Regions from separate parts of the Homo sapiens genome. Here all the other regions are linked to region 1. The links come from fine-mapping of genetic effects on gene expression. A gene starts in region 1. Each other region holds a variant in brackets. All regions are shown on one strand. Distances are between the middles of the regions. Region 1 holds the start of GRIK4 (glutamate ionotropic receptor kainate type subunit 4). Region 2 overlaps GRIK4 (glutamate ionotropic receptor kainate type subunit 4). Region 3 overlaps GRIK4 (glutamate ionotropic receptor kainate type subunit 4). Region 4 overlaps GRIK4 (glutamate ionotropic receptor kainate type subunit 4). Region 5 overlaps GRIK4 (glutamate ionotropic receptor kainate type subunit 4). Region 6 overlaps GRIK4 (glutamate ionotropic receptor kainate type subunit 4). Region 7 overlaps GRIK4 (glutamate ionotropic receptor kainate type subunit 4).

Evidence for each region. PIP is the estimated chance that this variant, and not a neighbour inherited with it, causes the effect.
Region 2: its variant is the best candidate, but not a certain one, in a credible set for the expression of GRIK4 in sun-exposed skin (GTEx, PIP 0.85).
Region 3: its variant is the best candidate, but not a certain one, in a credible set for the expression of GRIK4 in thyroid (GTEx, PIP 0.63).
Region 4: its variant is the best candidate, but not a certain one, in a credible set for the expression of GRIK4 in tibial nerve (GTEx, PIP 0.63).
Region 5: its variant is the best candidate, but not a certain one, in a credible set for the expression of GRIK4 in whole blood (INTERVAL, PIP 0.81).
Region 6: its variant is the best candidate, but not a certain one, in a credible set for the expression of GRIK4 in skin (TwinsUK, PIP 0.69).
Region 7: its variant is the best candidate, but not a certain one, in a credible set for the expression of GRIK4 in lung (TOPMed, PIP 0.72).

The regions. Positions count from the first base shown.
Region 1 is chr11:120,510,156-120,514,155 of GRCh38, reverse strand. GRIK4 (glutamate ionotropic receptor kainate type subunit 4) reads right to left here and starts at 2,408. Exons shown (of 21, transcript NM_014619.5): 1 at 2,269-2,408. RefSeq lists silencers at 2,338-2,537, 2,718-2,797.
Region 2 is chr11:120,739,616-120,743,615 of GRCh38, reverse strand. The region is part of intron 3 of GRIK4 (glutamate ionotropic receptor kainate type subunit 4); the gene reads right to left. Among named protein-coding and RNA genes, the nearest start is that of GRIK4, 230 kb to the right of the region's middle. The variant C/A (reference allele first, on the strand shown) is at 2,102.
Region 3 is chr11:120,597,095-120,601,094 of GRCh38, reverse strand. The region is part of intron 1 of GRIK4 (glutamate ionotropic receptor kainate type subunit 4); the gene reads right to left. Among named protein-coding and RNA genes, the nearest start is that of GRIK4, 87 kb to the right of the region's middle. The variant C/G (reference allele first, on the strand shown) is at 2,300.
Region 4 is chr11:120,562,376-120,566,375 of GRCh38, reverse strand. The region is part of intron 1 of GRIK4 (glutamate ionotropic receptor kainate type subunit 4); the gene reads right to left. Among named protein-coding and RNA genes, the nearest start is that of GRIK4, 53 kb to the right of the region's middle. RefSeq lists enhancers at 668-1,247, 1,248-1,828 and a silencer at 1,379-1,648. The variant T/G (reference allele first, on the strand shown) is at 2,061.
Region 5 is chr11:120,856,228-120,860,227 of GRCh38, reverse strand. The region is part of intron 8 of GRIK4 (glutamate ionotropic receptor kainate type subunit 4); the gene reads right to left. Among named protein-coding and RNA genes, the nearest start is that of TBCEL, 170 kb to the left of the region's middle. The variant A/G (reference allele first, on the strand shown) is at 2,021.
Region 6 is chr11:120,734,162-120,738,161 of GRCh38, reverse strand. The region is part of intron 3 of GRIK4 (glutamate ionotropic receptor kainate type subunit 4); the gene reads right to left. Among named protein-coding and RNA genes, the nearest start is that of GRIK4, 220 kb to the right of the region's middle. The variant T/CAGTGCGT (reference allele first, on the strand shown) is at 1,713.
Region 7 is chr11:120,621,128-120,625,127 of GRCh38, reverse strand. All of the region lies in intron 1 of GRIK4 (glutamate ionotropic receptor kainate type subunit 4), which reads right to left. Among named protein-coding and RNA genes, the nearest start is that of GRIK4, 110 kb to the right of the region's middle. The variant T/C (reference allele first, on the strand shown) is at 2,477.

The DNA of each region.
Region 1 (4,000 bases):
GCTTCCGCCTCGCTGCTTCTCTTGCCTTCTGAGCAGTCTCTCCCCCAACCCAGGGCCGGTCCCCCTGTCCTCCCTTCCATCTCTGGATGGCTGAGAACCACCTCAGAAGCAGCTGAGCTCCTCTCTCCTGGATGCCCTGACTCCCTGCAGCTGGGACTTTCTCCTAGAGTCTCTGCCTCTCTCCCGGTACTAAAGTTCCCTCTCCATCCTAAGGGAAAACCAAAGTGGAAATCAGACCACGAAGCCGACCCAGGCTCTCGGAAGAATTTTCATTGCTGGGGAAGACAGCAGCCACCGATCAAGATGCCCAGGTAGGGGGATGGGAAAAACACAGAAAACCAAGATCCCCTCTCAACCTCCCCTCCCGAGCATCCACCTCTTCCCCACCCGGAGGGACCAGTGCTGCCTCTGGGTTTCAGGTGGCAGGTCCAGAGGAGGACAGAGGGGTGGAGCTGGTGAGGCAGGCGGGAGGCTGGTGGGCAAGCCCGGGCCACAAGGAATGAACAAAATATGGAAAATTAAACAAACCCAGACACTGTAATGTGTGCATATTAGATTAACTCTCCGAAGGGTCGTGACCTTGAGGAACACATCTGGCCAGTGAGAAAAATAATAAACCTGATTAATGATGAAGCCTGAGCTGCAGCTTCAGCAAATAAAGCCAGCATGATGACGCCCAGTGGAATTCCAGGGGCTGCCATCCCTGGTGGGACCGGAACACAGTGGACCTCGACAAGCCCCTCGCCCCTGACCACGCGAGCACAGACAGTCAGGGAGTCAGGCAGGACCGGATTTGTCTCTCAGATGCCCACTACCAACCCAGGCGGCCTCTCTCCCCGGAGATACCACGCCCGCAGTTTCCCGGTGCTCCTAGAAGTGTCACTACCAACCAGGTGACCCATAGGGAGTGAAAGTGAAGGTAGTTCTTTGTTCCTGGCAGGGCTCAGTCCTCCTGACCAGCCCTCAGACCTCTTGGCCTGGTCTTGACAGCTGCCCACTGCCTGGCAAAAGGGCCCAGCTGTGCTCAGAGCTCCCCTCCTCTTCCCAGACAACCCAGACCCTTGGGAGACATGCCCAGGAGAGCCACTGGAGGGAGGCAGGGAGGTGGCACCGCGTGGCATCACCAGACAACAGCACCAAGAGGAAGATGGCAGCATCAAGTACAGATGCCAAGAGCCACGCAGCCCAAGGTCCAGCCCGGGAGTGGCTCGGCCCGCATTGCCCCACCACTGCCAGGCAGACGGGCCAGAGGCGCCCGGGGCCCAGCCCCCTCGGCCGCCTCCTCCACCACCCCAAGGCCCTCAGCCAACTCTCCCCAGGCTCCAACTCCTCCCCTCACTTTGCTCAGCTCAAGGGAGCCAGGGAAAGAGACACAGGTGCTCTCAGTGCCTTGAACCCCCTGTCCCAGCTGTCGCCTGCACGCCCTCCACCCCAGCCAGGTCGGAGCGCACAGCTCTGCCAGTCCTCACTGAAGAGAATCTAAATCAGCTCCCCTCCCCCTCCGCCCCAGCCCCCTCCCCCATCACGCGCCCATTGCAGGTCTCTAGAGTTTCTCCCTCACTTCCCACTCGGATGAACTAGGGTGGGATGGGTGGGAGCCCCATTCTCCCCGGGAAAGAGGATCATTTCTGATAGGACGCTGGTTCCCCCAAGCAAGGCGGTGTGCAGGGTGGGGGGGTGTGGTGGTGGCCCGAGTCCAGTGCAGGGGCAGGGGGCAGTCGAGGCAGATGGCAGTGAGGAAAGGGGGAGGGGGCTTGGTGGGATGCCAGGCTGAGCCGGGATGGGGGGCTGCAGCCGGGGAACAGAGGCGCTGGGAGAAGCGGAGGGTGACGAGGTGTAGGGGAGACGCGCCAGGCTGGGAAGGGGCTGTCATCCCTGCAGGGGACAGAGGCAGGGCTGGGAGTTGCACGGGGAGGGGGAGGACCAGAGCGGGAGGACCGCGAGCCCGGGGAAGGGATGCGGAGGGAGGGAGACGGACCGGGGTGAAGACTGGAGGAACTACGGGAGCAGAGCGGTGGGGGGTTCGGCGGCGAATCTGGAGACGCAGGGACCGAAGTGCCAGGGACCGGGCTGGCGGGAGGCGGGAGCGGGGAGGAGGGCGCGGGGGCGGGGGCCGGGGCAGGGGTGCGGGGCCGCGGCCCCCGAGGGCAGGAGCGGCGGAGACGTCAGAAGTCGGGGTGCGGGAAGGGCCAGCGCGGAGGGGACTCGGGGGCGCGGGGGCAGCGCAGGGAGCGGGCCGGGGGCGCCGCGGGGGGCCGCTGCCCTTACCTGGTCGGCTCCGCACTCCGGGGGCTGAGCCGGGGGCCGGGCGCTGCCGGGCCGGCCGCGGGGCTGCTGTTGGCCGTTTTTCCTCTTCCGCAGCAGCCGTGGCGGCTCCAGCCCGATCCGCCCGCAGCTGAAGGCAGTCTGTGTCCGGCTGCGAGCGAGCCCGGCGCGGGGAGCGCGGGAGGAGCGCAGCGAGGCGCGGGGCGCCGCCCGGCGGGCAGCTGGGGAACTGCTGCGGCCCCGCGCACGGCCGGCCGGGGGGGCGCCCCTTCGGGGCCGGGCCGGAGCCCCGCGGGCAGCTGCACGCGCCCCCCAGCGCCCCTCGGAGCGTCGCCCGGGAGCCCAGGCGCGGGGGCGGCGGGGGCGGCGGGAACGGCGGGGGCTGCTGCGGGCAGGGCGGGCGCGGGTCCGCGCGGCCGGGGGCAAACTTGCGGCTGCCCGGGGGCCCGGGGCCGAGCGAGAGGCGCCCGGCTGGGGAGCGGCGCCCGGCAGAGGCTAGGGGCGCGCGGCCAAGCGGGCTCTGCGAGGTACGGACCTCAGGTGGGGAACCCGGCGCAGCCCGCACACTCCACCGCCCTGCGCAAAGGGGCAGCCCGCCCCGGCCCCGAGGAGTTATTAGCCCGGCGGCTTCAGCGAGCAAGGGGCGCCCCCTGGTGGCATTCGGGAAACAGCGCGGGGGACGAGCGTGCCCCGTTAGAAGAGACTGCGGCCTCAGTGGTGCGGAAGATGGAGAGGTGGAGGTTTCATGGGACGAGACAAGAGCACCTTGTTCAGGAGACTGAAGAGCAACAGCTTGCATGGAGTCATTCCAGAGCACTGTTGTATACATACCAACATCTTGGGAGGATCTCATGTTACGCATGAAGATCCTGAGGCTAGGAGAGGTGAAGGGACCAGGCCAAGAACACACGGGGAGCAAGTGGCAGGACCCAGGAGGCAACCCCGCTTTCTGACGCGCGGTTCATTTCAGTACACCGTGTGGTTCATCCTAATACAACAGAGTTGCCCTTAGGAGGAGGCTGGGTGAAGAGGGAGTCCTGGGGGAATAGGAGGGAGGGCAAGGGACACGTGACCCCCTCAAACCTATTAGCTCCCTCTTATCCAACCCGCAGAGTCTCTGTCTTGGGCAGACCACCAAACTGATCACACCGGCCCTCTCACCTTCAATGGCCTGTATCCCCACACCCAACCACCAGCACTCCCACAATCTCATTAAGCTCTCTGTGAAGGGTTTGTTCACAGACGTCCTTGGTCAGGTCTCACGCATGAGGCATACTATCGGGACTATAGACTGTTCTGGACGTTGCATTCCCCGGGGAGGGCTGGCTGGCTAGCCTGGGCGCGTACTGGGCCTCCTGCTTCAGGAGTCGTGCCTATCCCTCCCCCAGCTCCACACACTGGCTGGATGAATGCCATATGCGAACAGGGCTCCATTCCTCCAGCCAGACATTATTTAGCACCTACTGTTTGCCAAGACTATACCGCTTACACAAGTGTGATTCCCAATAATCAACTTTGCAAGGTAGGTGTTGAGGTGACACTAGTCCCATTTTACAGAGGATGTTAAACCTGTTAAGGTTTAAGAGCACCTGTAAGCCAGTGACACAAAACTAATTTCTAATTCCAACTCTATTCCCCCACTCTGGAACCCCCTCTCTTGTGCAAAATGGACGGAACAGCAGCATAAGCCTAGCAGAAAGTGTACGGGGCTGGGAGGAGGGAGAGGCATCCCTGT
Region 2 (4,000 bases), 230 kb before region 1:
TCTATTATACAAAAACTTTTCTTTTTTAAAAAAAACTTTTATTCTAGGTTTGGAGGTACACATGAAGGCTCGTTACATAAGTAAACTCACATAACAGGGATTTGTTGTGCAGATTACTTCATCACCCAGGTATTAAGCCCAGTACCCAAGAGTTATCTTTTCCACTCCTCTCCCTTCTCCTACCTTCCACCCTCAAGTAGACCCCTGTGTCTGATATTTCCTTCTTTGTGTTCATAACTTCTCATCATTTAGCTCCCACTTAAAAATAAGAACATATAGTATTTGATTTTCTGTTCCTGCATTTGTTTGCTGAGCATAATGGCCTCCAGTTCCATCCATGTTCCTGCAAAAGACATAATCTCATTCTTTTTTTTTTTTTTTTCTCTGAGACAGAGTCTTGCTCTGTCACCCAGGCTGGAGTGCAGTGGCGTCATCTCTGCTCACTGCAGCCTCCGCCTCCTGGGTTCAAGCAATTCTCCTACCTCAGCCTCCCGAGTAGCTGGGATTACAGGCACCCGCCACCACACCTGACAATTTTTGTATTTTCAGTACAGACGGGGTTTCACCATGTTGGCCAGGCTGGTCTCGAACTCCTGACCTCATGATCCACCTGCCTTGGCCTCCCAAAGTGCTGGGATTATAGGTGTGAGCCACCATGCCCAGCCAATCTCATTCTTTTTATGGCTGCACAGTATTCCATGGTGTATATGTACCACATTTTCTTCATCTAATCTGTCATTGATGGGCATTTAGGTTGATCCCATGTCTTTGCTGTAGTGAATAGTGCTGCAATGAACATTCACATGCATGTGTCTTTATGGTAGAATGATTTCTATTTCTCTGGGTATATACCCAGTAATGGGATTGTTGAGTAAAATGGTAATTCTGCTTTTAGCTCTTTGTGGAAATGCCATACTGCTTTCCACAATGGTTGAACTAATTTACACTCCCACTAACGGTATATAAGTGTTCCCTTTTCTCTGCAACCTCGACAGCATCTGCTATTTTTTGACTTTTTAATAATAGCCATTCTTAGCACCACTGCAGTCCGGCCTGGGCGAAAGAGCAAGACTCCATCTCAAAAAAAAATAATAATAATAATAATAATAATAGCCATTCTGAAACGTGTGAGATGGTATCTCGTGGTTTTGATTTACATTTCTCTAAAGATCACTGATATTGAGCTTTTTTTTTCATATGCTTGTTGGCTGCATGTATATCTTCTTTTGAAGTGTCCATGTCCTTTGCCCACTTTTTTTTTTTTTTTTTTGAAACGGAGTCTTGCTCTGTGGCCCAGACTGGAGTACACTGGCGCAAACTCGGCTCACTGCAACCTCCACCTCCCAGGTTCAAGCGATTCTCATGCCTCAGCCTCCCAAGTGACTGGGACTAAAGGCACACACCAACATGCCCGGCTAACTTTTGTATTTTTAGTAGAGACGGGGTTTCCCCATGTTGGCCAGGCTGGTCTTGAACTCCTGGCCTCAGGTGATCCACCAACCTCAGCCTCTCAAAATGCTGGGATTACAGGCATGAGCCACCATGCCCGGACTATGGGGTTGTTTTTCTTTTGTAAATTTGACCAAACCTTTCCTTAATTCCTGAGATGTGAGCCCAGTCTCCAAATTCCCAGATCATATTTGTTCCTCTGTGTCCCCATATTGCTGCAGCTACCCTAGAGCCATTGCATATTCACAGATCTATGTCTCCTCTTAGCCAGAGAATTCCCCCAGGGCAGAGACTGCATCTTACCCCACAGGGGCCCACTGGGCTTTGCTGGTCGGAATGAATGAATGAAGAGCAGGGTAATGACAATTGGTTGATGTGAGTGTGTCTGTGCTTGCCTGTGCATGTATGCGTGCATGTATACTGATATCCATGAATGAAAACAGAAGGCATTTTATATTTAACCTGAAAAGTTAAGATACCCTGTGGGGCACTCACATGAATAGAAGGCCGCCTGAGGAAGGAAATCTACACATTTGCTATTTTTGCAGAAAGGCAGCATTGCACAGTGTGGTTAAGAGCACATTGCCAGGGCCAGGCATGGTGGCTCATGCCTGTAATCCCAGCACTTTGGGAGGCTGAGGCGGGCGGATCA[C/A]GAGGTCAAGAGATCTAGACCATCCTGGCTAAAATGTTGAAACCCCATCTCTACTAAAAAATACAAAAATTAGCTGGGCGTGGTGGTGCGTGCCTGTAGTCCCAGCTACTTGGGAGGCTGAGGCAGGAGAATCGCTTGAACCTGGGAGGTGGAGGTTGCAGTAAGTCAAGGTCGCACCGCTGCACTCCAGCCTGGGTGACAGTGAGACTCCGTCTCAAAAAAAAAAAAAAAAAAAAAAAGAAAGCACACGGCCTGTTCTGCCACTTCTCAGCTGTGTAAACTGAGGCCAGTTTCTTAACTTCTTTCTCTGTGTCTCTAATTCCTCAATTGTAAAGTGGAGGATATTGTGAGTGGTAAATGAGTTAATGCATGCAGGGGCTCAGAAAGACCCCTGACACCTGGTAAATTCTCAGTGCTAGCAATTACACGAACGAGAGAGACAGCACAGCAGTGGGGTTCTGGAGCAGGTGCCAGAAACTTGCCCCTCACACACACTATCCACAGCTTTACTGAGGCCCCTCCTCCCTTAGGTCCCTGGTCCAGCCGGAAGACCCCAGAAATGTGAGGTAGGGTTGGACACTCAGTGCAGTCTCAGATCTTGCGTCAAATAAAACCAAATAAACATGCCTCGTCTCTATGGTAAGGTGAGAATGACCCAGGAGAGGGCCCATAATAAAGCATTATGCAGATACATGGCCAGGAGAAGGGTGGGAGAGGCCATTGTACTTTACAGGTACACTAACTGAGGCACTCACGGGAGGTGGATTGACTGATGGGCAAGAGAAGCAAAGGGACAATGCTCCCATTCCTCACTAGTCACTCAGCTCCATGGGAGCACAGAGACTGGGGTAAACTCCTCTGGACCAAACCAGGGAGACCAGGATCCCAGGCAGATGCCAGAGATAGTTCCTCCCAAGTTACCAGGCAATGCTGGATCACTTCCTGGCAGTTCACCTCCCCTCTGCCAGCTGGGGCCCTATATGGGTGGAGTGCATGATGAGGCATGATGCTCAGAGTCCCAGCTGGGACAGGGCCACGGGACAGCTCTGGGTAATGTGGGGTCAGCAGGTTCCTGTGGGGATGCTTCAGTCCCTATCCTTTCTCTAGCTGAAGGCTCTGCCACTCATGCGGGGGTGAGGGAAGGAGGGGCTGGGAGCTACTGCCACCGCAAAAGGCTGGCTGTGATTGTCTAGCTTCTGCTGGTTTTCACATCAACAGCAGGTGCATGGCCGGCATATGACTTTCCCAGCAGCCTAACTACAACCCCATGCTATGCTCAGGTATAACAGTTGTCGATTGTAGAGTACAGCCAGGCTCAGGCATTTTATTAAAATTCTTGAAGTGGAGAGTAGGCTCAGAAGGGAAGGAGAGTCAATCTACACCTATGTGATGCCAAACATCTGATTAAATCTGCAAAAGTTCAGCCAATTGTCCATGTAGTCCACATCCCAAGCTGTTCCGTGTAATGCAAACCAGCCATCTGTGTTTCCCAAACACAGCCTTTGGCCACCAGATGGGCTGCCCTGGTGGATGAGGTTGGGGCATGTGAGGTCAGCTGGCTGGAGTGCAGTCCTAGGGCAAGGGTAATGGGTTTGGTCTGTGTGTGATCTTGTTAGTGGACTCTGTTTGGAGCCACAAAAGTCACCTCTGGTTTAGGCCCGCCCTCTGGATATTAGACAGATGTGTGATTGTACCAGATCAGCGTAAATTATCACAAATGCTAGAAACTGCATATGCATACTGACACTGAGCATCGTCACCTGAGGACAGAAAGTCCGAGACACACACTCACCCCTAGATCTTGGGACTCCAAAGTGCCCCGTATTGCAATGCAGAATTTTGCTCTGATAGGTATATGTTGAAATAAGAGATGTCTAAACATGTTGTCTCAGAGAAACA
Region 3 (4,000 bases), 87 kb before region 1:
TGGGTGCTGTAATAGTTCTCATGAGTTTTGCTTGTTTGTTTGTGACAAGGTCTCACTCTGTCACCAGGCTAGAGTGCAGTGGCACGATCCGGCTCACTACAGCTTCCATCTCCCCAGGCTCAAGTGATCCTCCCACTCAGCCTCCTGAATAGCTGGAACTACAGGCGCATGCCACCACACCTTTTTGTATTTTTTGTAGGGATGGGATCTCAGTATGTTGCCCAGGCTGGTCTCAAACTCCTGGCCTCAAGTGATTTGCCTGCCTCAGCCTCCCAAAGTGCTAGGATTACAGGCATGAGCCACCATGCCCAGCCTCTCATGAGTTCTTAATCTTTTTGAAGGTCACTGACCTCTTTGAGAATCAGAACAAAGCTACAGATTTACCCCTTCCAATTTCACTTTCCATGCATATTTGTGATGCTGCCTGTAATGCCAGGGACTCCCAGAACCCCTGAAGATCTTCCTGGTGGGGAGAGGGTCCCCAGACCCCTGCCTCTGCACTCCTGGCTAGGATCTCCTCCAGTCCTGACTGTGGGAGGAAAACAAAGACCAGCATCCCTCCTCAGCCCTCTGTTCAAAGAGCAGAACAAAAACCAGGTGGGCTTTGCTGGGAGGCCCAGAGAGCAGGAACCCCATTTCCCTGAGTTAGCCTCAGGCACTGCCTCTGAAAGGCTGCCATTCAGGCAGCCAAAGCTGATTTGACATTTGTTTAATTCGCAGGAAAACTCTAGTTTTCTTTTTTTTTAAGACAGAGGGGGGAAAAACTCCCATAAAACCTCTTACTCTCTTGCCCTAATGGGACCCATAAAGGCTGACAGTGCACCAGGAATCAGCCACGCTGAGAAGCCGGAAGCCTGGTGGGTGGAGGTACCCTCCCGCTGTGGGAGGAGCAGCTTTAAGAGTCTCATTTTTCTGCAGGCCTTAGGGGCTCCCACATTGAAGGTCTCACCTTTCCCTTTCCCCAAACACACCTGAATCAGGGCTGCCAGCACTACTCTCCCTGGAACCTTCCACCCAAGGGCTTCGGCCACCTGCAGAGTGGGCGGATGGCAAGGTCGCTTCTAGAGCTTTTCTGATGCGCCAGGCCCCATGCTAGGTGCTCATGCCAGCATGAGAAAGCGTCAAACCTAAAACCAGCCTCTAATGTTCAAACATACTCTGGCTGCAAGAGACACCAAAAGCCTTTCTTTCACCTTTATGTCACGGGCTCTGGGGCAGGGGTTCCCTTGTGCTGAGTTTGACTTGCTCCTTGCTCGGGTGAGTCACCCAAGAAGGCTGAGCTTGGGGACAAGGCCCAAGGTGTTTGTAGCTCCTACTGCCTTTTCTCTCCCTGCTGAAAGGAGAGTTTCAGGGCAACCTGGAACTGAGGCCCACACCCCAGGAATACCCAAAGCTGGCAGCCTTGAAACTGGTTTTCACAAACCTCTGATCAAAGTACTTTCTGCACTGAAAACGGGGCACTATATCCCTGGAAGCACAAGAGGGAGGCTAGGGGGCTGAGAATACAGTAGCAGAGATGGAGCTGGCAAGACATCTAGAGACTCCATCACTGACTCATTCTTCTGAACCGTTCCTTCCTTCAAAGGGCCTAAAACCCTCTGGTCTTCATCTCCCAGATAACGGCGGAAACTCTGTTAAGTCCAGGTGGAGAAACCAGGGCATGCTGTGAGCCTGAGAAGAGGGCAGGCATGGGGCACCAATGTCCCCTCCTCCATCCCTGGAGCCTCAAGCCCAGAACAGGGACCTTCCCCACCACCAACTCCAAACATGCACTCCAGGTTCATCTGCAGCAGCTGGTCCAGGGAAATATTAATAACAATCATGAAAGGTAATGACTAGTTGTGAGAACAAGGATCAATTCAAAAGGGAAGTTGTGTTTTCACATTCTCTGCGTGTTTAAAAAACAGCAACACACGCATCAAACAAACAAAATGAGGCATCTGTCTGGCACAGCCTCGTGATATCCCGTCCAGATGTGGAAGCTCAGTAAGCCCCCTCTCCACACCCTTAGTTTACAGGACCAGGAGCTGTGAAATGGCCTTTGAAGAGTGGGTGTTACCCTTTGCAGTAACGCAGAATGACCACAAAGCCTTCCTCGTTCCTGCAGGCACACCCCTTCAAATGGGGCTTCTTGGCCCCTCCCATCAAGAGAAGGAGTCCATTATCCATCCCTTGAGTCTGGACTTGGACATATGACTTCCTTTGGCCAACCGGACATTAACAGACATGAAATAACAGAGGATGTAAAAAGTACTTAGGCATCAGGCTTCCCTCTTCTGCAAGATAGACAGGGTCCAAG[C/G]CAGCTCAGTTACTTTCAAAGAGGAAGAATGGATATCTACATCTACATGGACATGGAGAATGTGTGAGGAAGAGGTCAGGCCTGGGCGAGCCTCTTGGAAGATAAGAGGCCATGTGGTCCTTGCCACAGCTGATACTGAGGGAGGCCATCCCAGTTCCTGCAGCCCCAGACAACCTGGCCAAGACCAAAGGAGCCATCTAGCCAAACACAGAGCCATCAATAATAGTCAAGTTCATTGTCTTGAGCCACTAAGTTTTGGGGAGATTTGTCATATGGTGGGAGTTAACCACTATACCGTGCCATTCTCTGTCAAGGAAAAGAACTGGTTGGCTCCTCAGGGGGTGGGCAGGTTCCACCACGCAGGCCAGGAAATGTCCCTGGAGCCGATGGAGAAAGACCACAAACTCTGCACTGGAGGTTGAATTCAAACCACCGTTCTGCTACCTGCTATCCAGATGACCTTGGGCAAGACACTAACTCTGTGAGCCTCAGTTTCCTCATCTGCACAAGGGGCACAGCAAGCCGTTTCATAACGCTGCTGTGAGAAAGAAATGAGAGAATGGATGGAAAAAGTCGGATGCACAGCAAGGGCTCAACAGATGCTTGTGTCTCTTTTTTAATCAGTCAAATTCGATGGTCAAGGCATCTTCCACCTTGATTCCAGAAGAGTGGAAAGAACAGAAGGGGCCCAGACCAGCTCCAACTGCGAGGCCAAGGGAGCGCAGGAGGGGAAGTCTGTTGTTAAAACAGCCGCTTGGCTCTGTCGCTGAGGCACTTAGTTTTTAATCTCTCTGAGGAAAGAGACGTTTCATCCAACATTCACCGCATCAGCAACTCTCTAAGTAAAATGCAGAAAACATGACGTCTTTATTCATTCCATCAAGCAGTAATTAGGGCTCGGAACAGGAGTCTTCAACGGCAGGCACTCCCGCTCCTGAAAGTCAGGCAGGTTTCTAATTGGGCTGGAGAACAACTTTGGGGAGATCTCACAGAGGTCGCTAAAAGGGACTCATCCACAGTCACAATTTCCCTTTCGCTTTCAGATGCTTAGAGAAAAATTCGAATGCTGCACTGTATTAGGAAATCAGACAAAGCGGGGGGCTGCACTGAACAGGCAGCACGCATGGCCCACCACCTCAGGACCCCCACGGATCCCTGAATGCAAACACTCTGGCAAAGCGCACGGCTGAGGCAGCCAAGTAAGACTGAGAGGCAATTTGCTTTTTGTTCTTTAAAAAGAATCAGCTAGAGAAATTGCCTTTATGTGACACTGAGACTCTGCTGCCTGCCACGGGGCTCAGCTGGGGGCGCCCGGGGCTCGGTCAGAGAACAGGTCAGATCTTCACCTGTTGGGTAGTCAGCCAAGGAGGGAGAGGAAGGAGAGGGAACTGGCAACTGCCCAGCTCCCACCGTGTGCAGCCCCAAGAGGGGTGCTTTGCATACATGATCTCACTGCATCCTCCCCAGAACCCTCTGCGGGAAACATCATCTCCTCATCATGGTGGGAAGGCACTTGCCCCGTCACCCAGCAGGTAAGGAGCAGAACCAGATTGGAACCCAGGTGGAGAGGGAGCGGCCCCGCAAGGTGAGTGGAGCTGCCTCTGGCATCCAGGGGCCCAAGAACAAAGCTACCTGGGGCTGCCCTGGCATGAAGCTGTCATGTTCCCAGCTCTGGGAGCAGCCGTTGACTAAGCCAGGGGT
Region 4 (4,000 bases), 52 kb before region 1:
GAAGGAATTTGAAGTCTGGCCTCCTTTCTCAGTCACTTCCTGGCTGGATGACCCTGGACAGGGTGCCTAACGTCTCTGGACTCCAGTTACTTCCTCTGAAAAGCAGAATAAAGAATATCTTGCCTAGATCAGAAGATCTCTGGAAATCCCTTACAGCTCATAGAGCTACAACTGTTCACTAAACGGCCTCTACAAATGAAGAATTTTTTGCCTTTTCATTTGTCAAATAAAATCTGAGGCCTAGGGTAATAGGCAAAGAACAGGCTTTAAAGTGCAAAGCACAAATCCAGGCTGCCATTTACTGTATCTTGGATATAAAACTTAACCTCTGTGGGCCTGGCTCAGATTTTTATCCTAGAGACAATGACGCCTACTTTCAACACGGCTCAAGGGGTAGGAAACATAGCATCATCCTTCCAGCCTAATACCAAAGTCACACCCCAAGCCCAGAATAACCACGTGTGTCTCAACTCTTTCTCCTAGATTTCCTGTCTTGCTTTTCACTCTCTATAGGAAAAGATGGTTTTGTCCATTCCCTGGCAACTAACGTGCTATTAGTTAAGTTTTCTCATGTGGCCAGGTATTACCTCTGAATTATAAGTGGAAAGACTGAGATGTAGAAAAGAGCCAGGGGGCAGGAGTAATTAGTGAGGCAAAGCCTGCAGCCAGACCCTGTATTTCTACTCCGGTCTCATTAACCGTGAGCGCTGCCGGGCGCTGGAGGCCCCCTTCTCCTACCTGTCGTCCTTCCTCACTCGGCTGTGTTCTGTTGTACCTCGTACAATATTGGATCTGTAAAACGCTTTATATTCCTTTAGCCAACACAGGGATGATTCAGAACAAGATTGGGTTATTACAAATTCAGGAGGCACTACACACACGGCTGTCATGTTTCAGTTACCCTTTCTCCCGGTTTAATAAAATTTGCCACACTAATACAAAGCCATCTTTTATCGTTTTCCCTGCAGTTGTAACAACTTGTCCAGCGCATTCCTGCTAATTAAAGGAGGAGAGGATGCAGCAGCTCACTGGAAAGTGGGCTTCTAGGGAGGCTGTCAGTATCTTTGCAGCCACTTAGCTCTGGTTCTTAGAGTCCTTTAATCGCCGGCTCCTCCATGACATGAGGCCTAATGAGGTCAGCAGCCGGTGGCGACATGGCAGGCAGTCCCGCGTGGCGGCGGCCGGGACAGCTGGGCGCGCTGGCAGGAGAGCAGGCACAGCGCTCCCCACAGGCAGGATGACGCGGGCTCCGCAGCCCGTCCTCCCACGCTGCCCCGCATCACTGCCTCGGCCCTGACGTGCGTGCGACAGACTCACCGCAAACAGTCCCCAGCGGGAGCACGAGGCCGGGACAGGAGGTGGGCGGCTACACAGGACACCCCACCCCCCCCACCCCCCCGCAGCCGGCGGAGCCGATCGCCGGAAAAGGGAGGCGGTGGGCGAAAGGAAAGCGGGGAGCTGGGAGAGGAGCTGTAAACAAAGAGCTGCCCTTGTGCGAAGTCCTGAGCCGGGTCCAGTCAGCCCGCTTCCTGTGGCCCACGCACTGCCCGCCGGCCCACGCGGGAGCCTCGAGGGGCGAGGCGGAGGCTGGGCGCAGTCCTTGCAGCCAGCAGCCACCTCCGCGCGCTCCGCCGCGGTCCAGCTAATTACCTGCTGCGGCGGCGGCCGTGCCCTTTAGGGTGCATTAGTATTCCCGCCGCGGGCGCTGCCCTCGCGGCGTCGGCACCGATGCCCGGCCACCTCCAGGCCCGAACGACTGCGGCTGCGGGAAGGCGGGTCGAGGGGGGCTACGGCACCCCAGGGAGAGGCCGGGAGCCGCCCGGACCTCGGAGGGGATGGGGTCCTCTCTGGGAGGCACCCGTCTCCTTCCTGGGTCCTAAGACCCTTCCCAGCCCTGCGCTCCGACCCCACTCCTCCCGAAACGTCGGGGAATCGGGAAAGGAGGGCCACGGGCAAAGCGGGGGCGGGCGCCCCCTGATTAGCATGCGGCGCCGGTTGCCCGGGCCCGGATTCCCGAGCCCCCTCCCCGCGAGCGCACACTAATAAGTTTACAAATGGAA[T/G]CCGGTGGCGCCGCTTGCAATAAAAGGCAGAAGCTGCGCTCCGGCGCTTCAATGAGAGCATTTTCCCCCGTAACAAGGGGCTGGATTCAGCTGCCTGGTGCCGTCTGAGCGGGGCGAGTTGCCAGAGTAACCAAGGCCTAGCGCGCACGTGGGGAGAGGGAGCTGGCTGGGGCTCCAGCGCTAGCCGCCGCCTGCGCGCCCGGGCCCTTCCTCAGGCCACCAGCCACTCCTCCGGGACATTGCCTCCCCCACCCCAACTTCCCCACTACATAAACTGCCTCCCTACCCACCCCCTAACCTTTCAAAGGCTCTCCGGCAGCTTGTGTTAAATTCATGAGACACACCGGGAACACCTCCTCCGCGATGGGAAAATAATGTTTAGGCCTGGAGTGTCACTGGAGAGGGGGCCCAGACGGTGACTGTGCTCAGAGCGGGCGTGGAGGCACAACCGACCCCAGGTGTGGGAGGCGCCAGAACTGGTGCAAACAGCAGTGAAACAGCAGGTGGAGATTCCAGAGCCCTGGGTAGCTCAGGAGGTAGGCTTCTGAATGACCTGGGGAAGGGTGGAGGGGAATTCAGAGCCAACTAACCCTGAGTGCCACATCTAACTTCCTGAGAGGAGGCTCCAAGGACGGGAGCTCCAGAAGTTCCTGGGGTCTAGCAGCTGCGGGGAGACCAGCTGGACCGTGAGCAAAGCACCCATCTATCCCACCTGTAACACAGGGCTGGCTGCTGCTGCCTTCTCCCAGCCTTTGGCCTAGGTTGGTTTAAAAAAAACGAGTTCAAAAGCTGAACCCGCTTTTGGTCTTCAGCTCTCAAAAGTTCACATTTTGCTCCAGAAAGTTAAGGCTGCTGTCCACCCTACTTCCTTCCCAGGGACCAAAAATATAGGGATTGTTTCTCTCTTTTTACAAGCTTGTCACTGGGCACAGGGTTCTTCCAGGCCCCAGAAGTTGTTCTCTGGAGCCCAGAGAAGCTGGATCCCATAGTTCCTCTCCTGAAGCTAGGCTGAGGGCTGCTAGGCAGCCGCCTTCCAAGTGGCCACATGCTAGTATCCTAGGAGATGTACACCCAAACACAGTGCTTACCGGCCAAGCAATCCCTATCCCACATGGACAAAGAGGCTGATACTAGACACTGCGAGTATGTCTAATAGAGAAAGAGCCCACTTCCTCTGCAACTGACAAAAGAAGGGAGCTGATTCCCGGGTTTTACCCAGGGAGACAGTGAAGTGGAAAGACACACTTCACCATCCCCGTTCTGGAAGCTGGGCAAGCTGGGTGCCAGCCTGCATGACTGACATCTCGGCAGTCACATACATCCACAGCCCACTGGACGTCATGCTTCCGCAGAAGGCCAAAATAGGGTCCCCCACTGCCACCAGGCAGCTGGACCCTGCAGAAGAGGGCTGGCTGCCCATTCTGATCCCCTGACCTGGCTCCTCCCTTTTCCACACGATACCCCCCATGCCCAATCATCACTAAGTCCTGTGGGTTCTACCTTCTAGAAAGTCTCTCAAATTAGTCCAAGCTGCACACATTTCTCACTAGCACTGCCCTACCACCACCAGAGGATCTCAACCTGTTCCCTTTTGTGTAAATCTCCCCAGCCATTTCCTGGCACCCTTAGCCTGGTATACAAGGCCCCCCATGAACTGATCACTGTCACGTCTCCAGCTTCTTCTCTCCCCTTGTACCCTGGCTCCAGCCTGCTTGCCATGACCCAAACACAAATCCTCACTTACTTCTGTGTGTGCAAGCTCTTCCCCAGCCCCCACCAGCCTCACAATACCCTAACTCCCCTTCTTCCTCTGGTTGGTTCCTTTACATCCTTCTAGGCTCAGCTCAGGCATCACCTCCTCCAGGAAGCCCTCCCCAGCTCCCTGCCATCCATCTGAGACTAAGTTAGCCTCCCAAATACACTTACCTGCTCCTTCACTA
Region 5 (4,000 bases), 350 kb before region 1:
AATCACATTCATTTCATGTTCATTCCAAGTGCCTTGCACACAGATCCACACCCTGGGGGTACACAGGACTTCCAGACCCTAGGACTAGCCCGTCAGCCACTCAGCCTGACATGACAGATGGCAAGTGCCTTAGGCTTTCCTTCTGGCCAGGAAGAAAGATTGCTTTCCTCCAGGCAGTCTCCTCTTCTGAAGACTTAGCTGCTGTAGGCCCCTGGCGCCACCCTTGCATCCTTGCCACACAGCTCCAGACACTGCCAAGGCCTCAGGCTACAGGCCTCAGCTCACCTACCCAGAGCCCAGCTTCATTAGCTTACACGTGCAAACTGGAGGTACCAAGCTTCCTTTGAAGCCACCAATGCCTGACAGAGTGGATTTGGATAAGGTTTAAGTGTATTTTGGATCCTGCCACATTCCCATTAGGGGAAAAAGGACATGCCAGAGAATGTATTGATTCCTACACTGATATTATCTCCTATCTCTCTAACAGGGCAGCTGCCCATGTGCTGTGGGCTATCGGTAGGCACAAGGGGGCAGATGGCTAATGGAAGAAGATGCATTTGGCAAGGGTGCAGGGACTGGGGCAGAGCCAGACTGTTGTGGGCAAACCAAGGGGCCTGGCTGGGCATGGTTGGCAGGGGCTGGAAAATGTCCTCTTCCCTGGCTTCCTTATCATTGTGGGCAGACACATCAGCCCAACTCCATCCTCTCCCCACACACAGAGCCCGATGGATGAAGGCTCATTTTAAGGAAGCCCTGAGGCTCTGGATGTCCACAGATTCACAGTGGCAGCTGGGGTGATATAGTGGATTCAGGCTTTGGTGTTCAAATCCAGGTTCCTTACCATACTGGCTGTTTGACTTTCGGCAAGGTCTGTAACCTTCTGGGCTTCAGATCCTTGTTTTTTAAAAAGAAACAATATTAGCAACCTTATAGGTTATTTCAAGAAACAAGTAAGATGCATGTAAAGCTTAGCCTCCTATTTGGCAAATACGACAGCTACTGAAAGACCACCGTGAAATCTGGGGTAGCTTCTGGCTTTCTGCCTCTTCAGTTCCACAAGTTAGAAAGGTATTCCCTTCAAATGCATGTTCTGGGCGGAGTAAGAATGAATGAGTTAATTACAGACACTTAGAGACAGTCTACCCAGAAGTCAGCCAGTCTGTCTTCCTGCCTTTTTATTCCTACCTTCTTGTCCCACAATTCTATGCAACTTTCAAAGGCCTCTTAAGATAAAAAGATTCCAGAAGCTTCCTTGATAATTCATTCTATTTATAATGACTCATGGGATAGCCTGTGGAAGGACAAGGAAGGGGGAGGGGCACATTCTTTTACTGCCATTTCCCACGACACTCTAAGGTTCTAGTATCTAAGAATCCTTACAGTTAGGAAATTCTCCTTTTTATCTAAACTTAAGACTTTCCTGCTGCTATTGAAGACTATTGTCTAAAAGAATATGGGAAATAACTGACCACCGTTAGTTTACAAACAATGAACATCTTATGTGCCAGTATTTATCAAAGTGTGTTCCTCAGGGCATTAGGTTTCCAGGTGACACCAACAGAAATTTCATGAAGACAAGGTTCCATGCTCAGATAAGGCTGGAAAACAATGCATATTATATCTGCCTTTTCAAGATTCGTAATAATCACTAGCATATTAAAGGCTGAAAAGAGTCCAGCAGTGAAGCAGCTGGTTTAATTTTGTTTAACCCTGAACTTCCCAAACACACTGACCATGGAACAAAGCAGGACTATGGGTTTTTTTTTCTCCTCCAAAATCCATGAGTGCCTGGCAGTGGCGTGCTTCAGAACGCAATCTGGGAAATGCTACTCTACATCTATTCAGAGAAACATTTCTTAGAAATCCAAAGTCAAGTGGTGGAGACATTTTGCGGAGAGAGATATTTCATAAAACGAACACATTTCAGGAATGGAAGGGATTAAAGTTCACCCAGTTTCCGCTGCCCACCCATCTTGAGCCCTACCTAAGAATGCACACCTGGCTCACTTAGGCTCCCATT[A/G]TGCCTCCCCAACCCCGCCCCAGCCACACTGCCTGGCTGGTTGTAACCTTCATACAATGACAGAAAGGAACAGTCCCTCGGGTGGAACAGGTTCTCATGGGGACCTTGATCCTCTTCTTATAAATATCCCAGGAAGGGATATCCTGAGGGTCCCTGCTCCCAACAGGAATCGACTCCCATTGTCCCAAACCAGGGAATGAGGGTGAAGAACAGAGCAAATGGGACCTGGTAAAGCCAAGTGGTGGGGCAGAGACCAGGACCAGGTCTTCCACTACTCCAAGTGTGGGTGGCTTTGTGATGGACCCCATGTTGCATTGTTTGTTCACACATGTGGTCTCTCTCTACAGGGGGCTGTGTGTTTCCAGGAAGCAAAGATATGTCTGCCTCATTTTTGAAGTTCACACTGCATCTAGAGAGTGCTTGGTACCTAAAAGCTGTTTGGTCAACGCTGTTTTGAGGACAGTTGATTGAAGACATCTTAATGCCTTGGGGTCTCACTGTGGCCAACTCTAACACCAAGCACACCCTGTCACACCTCCAGAAGGTGTAAAAACATGAGTAGAAGCTGTGCTAACCACTGACTGTCCTCTGTGAATTGCATTATTGTATTTTTTTTTTAAATCCTGACAGCTTGCTTTATCATCACTGGGCTTTCACATGAAAAACATTTTTAAAAGTGTGTGTGTGTGTGTGTGTGTGTGTGTGCATGTGTGCATACATGTGTGCAAATCTTTGTGTATACAATGGTATGTAAGGGTCCAAATAGCTATAGTTGAAGGTCAGGTCAGAGCCACAAGTGGATACGGGCAGATGTTACCCTGAGATGAAGGAATGCTTCACGGATAATGGCTTGAGAGCTACGTGGAAGGGCGCCCCTCACTTTCTGCAGCAGACGTGCCATGTCCAATGTCCTGGTTTACAAACAGGCATCCATTCACTGCAAGCTGCAGGAAGCTTTATGGGTCTACAGCCTGTTCATCGCCTGGGCCAGGGAGCAAGGACAGGCTCTGAGTGGGGGCTGAGTTGGGCATGGCCCCAGACAGGTGGAGGTCCTAGAGCTCAGGTAGTTTTGTTGGAGGATGAGAGGAAGAGAGGGTCTGGGAAACTGTGAGATTACCATGGCTGCAAGGGGCCGACCATGCCTTATACCACACAGGGTCCAGTGCCAAGAAATGTAGAGCTTTAGTGTCTGGTGTCTGGGAACATGGAGGGATAAGGGAAAGGTTGGGCAGACCTTGTGGGCAGCTTCTGCAAGGGAGGTCTAGGGGAAGCAGGGCCCCGGGGACATGTTCAGCTGGGCTAAGCAGGCAAGTCCCATCACTGGGGGTGGGATTTAGTCAATCCTGAGGACAGGACCAGGTTAGTCAACTACAGCTAAAAGCACAAGAACTTTTAATGGCCCAGATTGTTTCTGAGTTTGACCTTAAGTAGAAAAGCAAGAAACCAAAGCACAGGTCCAGGTGGTACCCTTAAATCAAGTTCATCTCCTAACCCAGGTCAAATGGGTAAGCAGGGGAAGTGGCATTCCGTGATGTTTTCTGCCCAACAGCCCCTTCCCCTTTGCCTTCCTAACCAATAAGGGCATTACTATTCTCCCAGGCACCTAAGCTAGAAACTTCAGAGACAGCCTCAACTCCCTTATTTCTTAACTCCACACCCAGTCAACTGCCAATTCTGTCAAATCTATCTCTTAAATGTCTCTCGAAGTTGTCCCTTCCTTTCCAACCCCTCCAGGTTAGGTCCTCGTCATTTCTCCTCTGCAATAGCTGCTATTTAATGGAGATCGTGCCTCTGATCTTAGGATACCTAGCCACTATGCTGTTCAATTCCCAGGTGCCATTTATACTGATGACCATGTGAATGGTGCCCCTTGGTGCCACATTGTGCAATGTGGCAATCTCATCAGGAAACAGTAGCATGTATTAGAAAGAGCACAAGTTTTGAAATAAGACAGTCCTGGTTTCAAACCCTCATTTGGCC
Region 6 (4,000 bases), 220 kb before region 1:
CTGATATCTCATTCATCTGTTCCTTTATAGCTACCACTTTGTTTTCTTGCCTCCGTGGCGGCTCCCTCTCAATCTCCTCTTACCAGACGTTCAAACATTGGAGTGCCCCCAAGGCTCAGTCCTGGGCTGTCTGCCCTATCTATCCTCTCTCCCAAATGAAATTATCCATTCCCAAGGCTTTAAATTCCGCTTATGTTTTCATCACTTTTTCTGGTTTTGATTTTTTTACCTGTTTATTGTAAAATAAAACATAGATACAGAAAACCACACACACAATATAAATGGTTTACTGAATCATTATAAGGTGAACACCTCATAATAACTATGCAGGTTAAGATATAGAAATTTGCCAACCACCCAGAAAGCCCCCCATGTCCTCATCCCAACCGTAGCCTCTACCTCCTCTCCAAAAGTAACAACTTCCCTGACTTTTAGAGTAATCACTTCCTTGTGGTTTTTTTTCTTTTATGATTTATCACCCAAGTGCATTCCTAGACACTAGTCTTGCCTAGTTTTTGAAACTTTATGTCTTCTAACTCTCTTTTAATTTACGGATTCCTCCTTCATCTCTTTCCTTTCCTTACAATTTATTTGTTCGTTTGCCCAATGGAATTTCTCCCAGTCTGGATTCTGTGGCCTGCATACTTCCGTGCAGTTCAACACGTTGAACTGTCTCTGTATTCTTGAAATTGACAGCTGGATTCTGAGGCTTGATCAGGCTCAAGTTCTATTCTTTTAGCCAAAGCTATGCACTTCATTAGGAACACACAATGCCTGCTTTTTGCTCTGTTTTTAGTATTAGCAGCTATTGGTGCTCAATGTCTAATGTCTAGACTTTGGATCCATAAATCATTTAGATTTCATTTATCAGCTAGAATAATTTTATGCAGAGATGCTGCCCCTCATTTATTATTTGGTTATTCAAATAATACATTCAAATAGTAGTGACAAGAAAAGTGCTCATTTCCTGTATTTACTCAGTTTTCAAGATAAAGTGGTTCCCGGCCATCCTCAGGAGATAACCAATTAGATAATTTTTAAAATGGCATTATGAACTCATGAGTATAAATATACTAGACCATGTCTAAACATCGGTTCCAATCCATTGCAACGACTATCCTTATTAAAGCTCAAGTTGTCATCTTCGGCTAGTGGGAATCCTCTTACGTTGGCTTCTAAGTCCTTTTACATGACCTATTCCAGGCTTATATTGTACATCTTCTGCCCAGACCTGGGATCAGCCATTTCTCCAAGATGCCCTGCCTTCTTTCAATGGGAAATGGTATATCACAACCACATCTGGGGATAAGAGGCTCATTGTATTTCTTGGTCATACTTTCTAGGCCTTTTTCAGTGAACAGAGGTGGGCAGGGTGAGGGGAGAGAGAGAGAGAGAGAGAGAATATATGTAATTAAAAATTCAAATTCAAGTCCAGATCTACAACCTTACCTCTTCTATACAACTATGTATTTCCATTCTTTTGAACTGAGAACTCTGGTCCTCAAGAACACAGAAATAATAGAATTAGAATTAGAATGAACCATAATTATTCTAATTATTCATTTGCTTTATCCTACATTATACATCCAACAGCCTCAGAATAACAATAACAATACTAATACCACTACCAGTAAATTATGATTACCAAAACAGTGTAAAATGTCTTAGGCTAGTTCTGATGCTGTGCTGGGCTTAGAGCCAGTGGACTGGAG[T/CAGTGCGT]GACCTAGGTAGACACCAGTCGAAGTGACCAAGGGAGTGCTTGGTCCCCCAACCCCACTCAGCACAGCTGGCAGCAACAAAAGTGACTCCTTCCTTCTGCTTGAGGACAGAAGAGAGAAGAGTAAAGACAACTTTGTCTTGCATCTTAGTTACCAGCTCAGCCACAGTAGGATAGGACTCTGGGCAGAGTCATGAGGTCCCCATTCCCGGCCCTGGCTCCCAGATATTTCTAGACACACCGTGGCCCAGAAGGGAACCTGCTACCTTGAAGGGAAGGACCCAGTCCTGGCAGGACTCATCACCTGCTGACTAAAGAGCCCTTGGGCCCTGAATAACCAACAGTGATACCCAGGGAATACAGACCATGGGCCTTGGGTGAGACTCTAAGATGTACTGGCTTCAGTTACTAGCTCGGCCACAGGAGGATAGAGCACCAAACAGGCTCTTGGGATCCCTGAGTCCAGGCCTAGGCTCTTGGACAGAATTTCTGGACCTGCCCTGGGACAGAAGGGAGCTAACTGGCCCTAGGATTGTGTCCCAGACCTGGCAGTATTCACCACAAGCTGACTGAGATGTCCTTGCGCCTTAAGGGAACATTAGCAGTGGTCTGGCAGAACTCCCCATGGGCCAGTGGTGGTGGAGGCCATGAGGAAAGGCTCCTCTGCCTGTGGAAAGGAGAGGGAAGAGTGGGAAGGACTTTGTGCCAGCTTAGCCACAGAAGAATAGAACACCAGGTAGATTTCTAAGGCTTTTTTTTTCACTCCAATCCCTGGCTCCCAGACAGTATCTATAGACCCACTTTGGGCCTGGGGGAACTTGTCGCCTTGAAAGAAAGGATGCAAACCTGGCTGGCTTTGCTACCTGCTGATTGTAGAGCCCTAGGGCCTTGATCAAACATAGGTGGTAACCAGGTACTGGTTACAGTGGGCCTTGGGTGAGACCCAGTGCTGTGTTGGCTTCAGGCATGACCCAGGGCAATTTGAGTGGTGGTGGCCATAGGGGTGCTTCCATCACCCCACCCCCAGCTCCAGGTGGCTAAGCACAGAGAGAGAAATATGCCATTTGTTTGAGAGAAACTAAGGGAAGAGAACAAGAGTCTCTGCCTAGTAATCCAGATAATTCCTCTGGATCTTACCCAAGACCACTAAGGTGGTAACTCTGTGAGTCTGCAAGAGCCACAGCATTACTAGGCTTGGGGCCCAAGTCCCTTTGAATACCCGGAAAGTCTTCCCAAGAAGAATAACACAGATTGCGAAGTCCAAATTGTGAAGACTACGATAAACACCTAACTGCTCAATGCCCAACATTGACAAACATCTACAAGCATCAAGACCAGCCAGGAAAACATGACCTCAGCAAAGGAACTAAATAAGGCACGAGGGACCAATCCTGGAGAAACAGATATGTGACCTTTCAAAACGAGAATTCAAAATAGCTGTGTTGAGGAAACTCAAAGAAATTCAAGATAATAGAGAAAAGGATTTCAGAATTCTATCAGATAAATTTAACAAAGGGATTGAAATAATTAAAAAGAATCAAGCAGGAATTATATACTTCTTGGGGTCCCTGAGTCCAGGCCTAGGTTCTTTTTGCATTTGAAAAATGCAATTGATATACTGAGGAATGCATCAGAGTCTCTTAACAGCAGAATTGATCAACCAGAAGGAGGAATTAGTGAGCCTGAAGACAGGCTATTTGAAAATACACAGACAGAGGAGAAAAAAGAATGAAACATGCCTACAAGATCTAGAAAGTAGCTTCAAAAGGGCAAACCTGAGTTATTGGCCTTAAAGATGAGGTAGAGAAATAGACAGGGGTAGAAAGTTTATTCAAAGGGATAATATCAGAGAACTTCCCAAACCTAGAGAAAGATATCAATATCCAAGTACAAGAAGGTTATAGAACACAAAGCAAATTTAACCTGAACCAGACTACCTCAAGACATTTAGTAATCAAACTCCCAAAAGTCAGAAATAAAGAAAGGATCCTAAAAGCAGCAAGAGAACAGAAACAAATAATATACAACTGAGCTCCAATATGTCTGGCAGCAGACTTTTCAGTGGAAACCTTACAGGTTAGGGGAGAATGGCATGACATATTTAAAGTACTGAAGGAAAAAAACTTTTACCCTAGAATAATATATTCAGTGAAAATATCCTTCAAGCATAAAGGAGAAATAAAAACTTTCCCAGACAAACAAAAGCTGAGAGATTTCATCAATCATCAGACCTCTCCTACAAAAAAATGCTAAAGGTAGTTCTTCATTCTGAAAGAAAAGAACGTTAATG
Region 7 (4,000 bases), 110 kb before region 1:
AATTTTTGTAGTTTTAGTAGAGACGGGGTTTTACCATGTTGGCCTCTAACTCCTGGCCTCAAGTGATCCACCTACCTTAGCCTCCCAAAGTGCTCAGATTACAGGCGTGAGCCACCGCGCCCGGCCTTAAGTCTTATTTTTACATGTTTATTTAAAATGAGGCGCATGATTGCTAGTCTATAATTTTCATACCAGGTGCGTTTCATCTTCTCTAGGTCTCTCTTAAATCTCTTAAATCTGCACCCCATCCCCCCAAGATAATCAAATACATGAAGGTGTCTTTATTTCTGTGTAGCTTTCTATACTTTCCTTTCCTGGAGCAGCAGGCAGGGAGAGAAGCTGAAGGGCAGAAGGTGAGGTGGGAGCTGTTTCACAGCCCTGGAAGAAAGAAATGAGGATCTACGCTAATGGAGGAAGAGGAAGAACAGGTTGAGAGCAATTCCCAAGGTGCTCTAGAGAATGCCCAGACTCCGCGGCAGGGTACGAGATGAAGTGTCTGTCTTGCAATTGTGTCTTGCAGAGGACTTCACCCACTTTCTTCCCTCGGTGCCAGCTGACTCTGGGCAGGGTGCTGAGAGAACAAGGGGTGGCCAGCAAGGAGGGGCAAGCAGGACAGCCCTCTAGGAGCACCTACAGCTACTCAGAGTAGAGAGTGGCTATGGGACAAGGAGGAGGCCAAAGGGGATGGGATAGCCACCAAAGAAAAATTCAGCTAGAGCCTAGCTTTGGGGCCAGGACCTCTACATCTGGTTACAGGGAGGGGGCACCAATGGAGGTCCCAACACTACTCAGATATTTCTGCCCCATGGGGCCCCATGGGGAAGGTCCAGCAAGGCCTAGACAGTCCGCTCTTGAGCTCTCTATTGGGGTGGCCCCTGCCAAACCCCAAGGGGACCTCAAGAGCCCTTGGTGAGAGGTTAAAGTAGTGTGATGAGATGTTTAGATTTCAACATAATTATTGCTATAACAGTTTAATCACTTAAAAACACTATCTTGTGTTACTCTAATGAAGAGAGAGGCTCTTTTCCATATTGTTTATGCCATCTGTGAGCAATTTTCACATTAGCCTCTTAGAATGGCAAAATGAAGTCCAGGCAGTGATGGAGAGAGGCAGGGCGGAAAGGGGAGGAGGAAGAGGGAGAGGGAGGAGGAAGAGGGAAGGGGGAGGAAGAAGAGTAAGGGGGAAGAGGAGGAGGAGGAGGAACGGGGAGGGCCCAGAGAGAAGCAGGGTGCCACGGAGGGCAGCAGGAGCTCTGAGGGCCCCTGGATGGGACGCAGGCTGCATGGTGCAGGCCCCATGTGTGCAGACCCCATCCTGCCACCATGGAGGAGCCAGTGGATGAACACGTGACCCTGCCTTTGAGGGTACCTCACTTTCTGATGGGAAGGAATTTCCTAAATTTATGAAGAAAGTAAAGAAAGACAAAATAGCCCAGGACAGTGATTTTCAAACTATGGGTCACAACCCATAAGTAGGTCCGTGAAATCAATTTAGTAGATTGTAATCAGTGTTTTTCTTTAATGAAATAGAAGAGAATGGAAAATAACAGAAATGTCATTTCCTACTGAAAGAAATCAGGGTGACTTGGAGGAATTCCTGGTTGGGGGTCAGGAACACACAAGCCTGTGACATCTTGTGTCAGAGAGCATGGGCTTGTTCACAGACCGATGGGGTCACACCTAAAGAGTACAGGGGGCCGGGTGCGGTGGTTCACACCTGTAATCCCAGTACTTTGGGAGTCCAAGGCGGGAGGATCACTTGAGCCCAGGAGGCCAAGACCAGCCTGGCAAACATAACAAGACCCCATACTCTACAAAAAAATAAAAATAAAAAATTAGCTGAGTGTAGCCCCAGCTACTTGGAGGCTGAGCGGGGAGGATCACCTGAGCCCAGGAGAATGAGGGTGCAGTGAGCTATGATCACACCACTGCACTCCAGCCTGGGCAACAGAGCAAGACCCTGTCTGAAAAATAAAATAAAATTTAAAAGAGTACAGGGGCTGGCTCCAAGGGGTTCCCACAGGCCAAAGATGGGACAATTTGAGATGCAAAAAGAATAGTTAGGAGAACTGACTGAAATACACTGAATCTGTAAAAATTCACAAGTCCATAAATGTAGTGGGTTAAAAGGCGACCCACATGACCTAACTCCCAGAACCTCTGGATGTTACCTTGCATGGCAAAAGATGTGATTAAGTCAAAGGATCCTGAGAGGAGGAGCACACTGGGTTATCAGGGGGGCCCTAAGTAAACCACATGTATCCGTAGGACAGACACACAGAGAAGAGGAGGGGGCAGCGTGACCACAGAGGCAGAGACTGCAGCAAAGACCAGCTAAAGCCACCAGATGCTGCAAGAGGCACAGAACGCATTCTCCCTAGGGCCTTTGGCGGGAGCACAGCCCTGCTGACAACTTGATTGCAGACTTCTGGCCTCCAGAATTGTGAAAGAATAAATGTCTGCTGTTTTAAGCCAC[T/C]TGGCTTCCGGTCATTTGTTACCACAGCCACAGGAAACTAATACAATAATGACACTCCCAAAAGAGAAAGCCAAAAGCAAAGAAAATAAGAACTATCAGGGCATGCAGTACAAAGTATTTCCATTTGATATGCATATATCTGTGGACAATCAGGGTTAGGCTTGGAAAAGTATTTCTTGCTGTGAGTCTTGCTCAAAAACATGAGAAAAGTCTGCCCAGTGGTTAAAGGCATGGCTTTGAAGTCAAACTACCCAGATAAGTGTCTCACTTCTGCCCCCTAAAGGCAGTGTGACCTGGGGCAAGTCACTTACCCTCTCTAAGCCTCCTGTCTGTGTCTGAAAAATGGGGGTAGTAATAGTACCTAGTTCATGGGGTTGTTGTGAAAATTAAATGTACCACATCCCAGTGTTGGTGGTGGTTGCACATTTGTCACAGTTAAAAATAATAATAAGGCCGGGGGCGGTGCTTCACGCCTGTAATCCCAGCACTTTGGGAGGCCGAGGTGGGTGGATCACCTGAGGTCAGGAGTTTGAGATCAGCCTGGCCAACATGGCAAAACTCCGTCTCTACTAAAAATACAAAAATTAACTGGGTGTGGTGGCGGGGGCCTGTAGTCACAGCTACTCGGGAGGCTGAGGCAGGAGAATCGCTTGAACCCAGGAGGTGGAGGTTGCAATGAGCTGAGATTGCACCACCGGACTCCAGCTTGGGCGACAGAGTGAGACTCTGTCTCAAAAAAACAAAAATTAAAACAATAATAATAATAATAAATGACATATATAAAGACAAGCACAAGCTATACCCCATACCCATGTTAATCATTACAAAGACCCCCTTGTACTGCCGCTGCAGCTGAGAAGTCTCTACGGATGACAGTATGTCAAAACTGACTAAAATCATGCAATTAAGTGCCTTCACTTTAGAAAGGAAGAAAATAAGGCCCAAAGAACTGTGACTTGGCAAGTTTACATAGTTAGTACATGCTTGAGATAAGACTAGACTCCATCTTGGAACTCCCAGTCTAAGGTGAAAGCACACTAACCCAACTCCCATAGTCTTTCATAAGCCCCTGAGGATGCCAGGACCTTCACTCTTTCTGGCTCCTGATGGCCCAGACCCTCCCTTGCCTCACTGCCAGGGCTCTGGGGAAGTCTTCTTTGTGTCTACCTCACAGAAAATCCCTTAGCTGCAAGTTGATGAGCTGGGAGGGGGTTTCTGTTACAACGAGTTTCCTTGCACTAAACAAGCTTACACTATCCTATTATTACCTGTTCAAATGATTTAGATATTTCTCCCTGACAGCTCCAAGTGCCTGATTCCCTGATCTTCTCTAGCAGGGGGCCTTGCAGGCCTTCAAACACTCAGCTGATTGGAGAAAATGGACTGTGTGAAAGGCTTAACTAAGGAGAAGGTTGTCAAGATCATCCACCGACCCTGCAGACTCACCGTGCCCACCCCAAGCAGCCTTCCTGACCTTACCCAAGACTCAGCATGAACGTGTTCCTTTCTTACTTCACAGAGGCT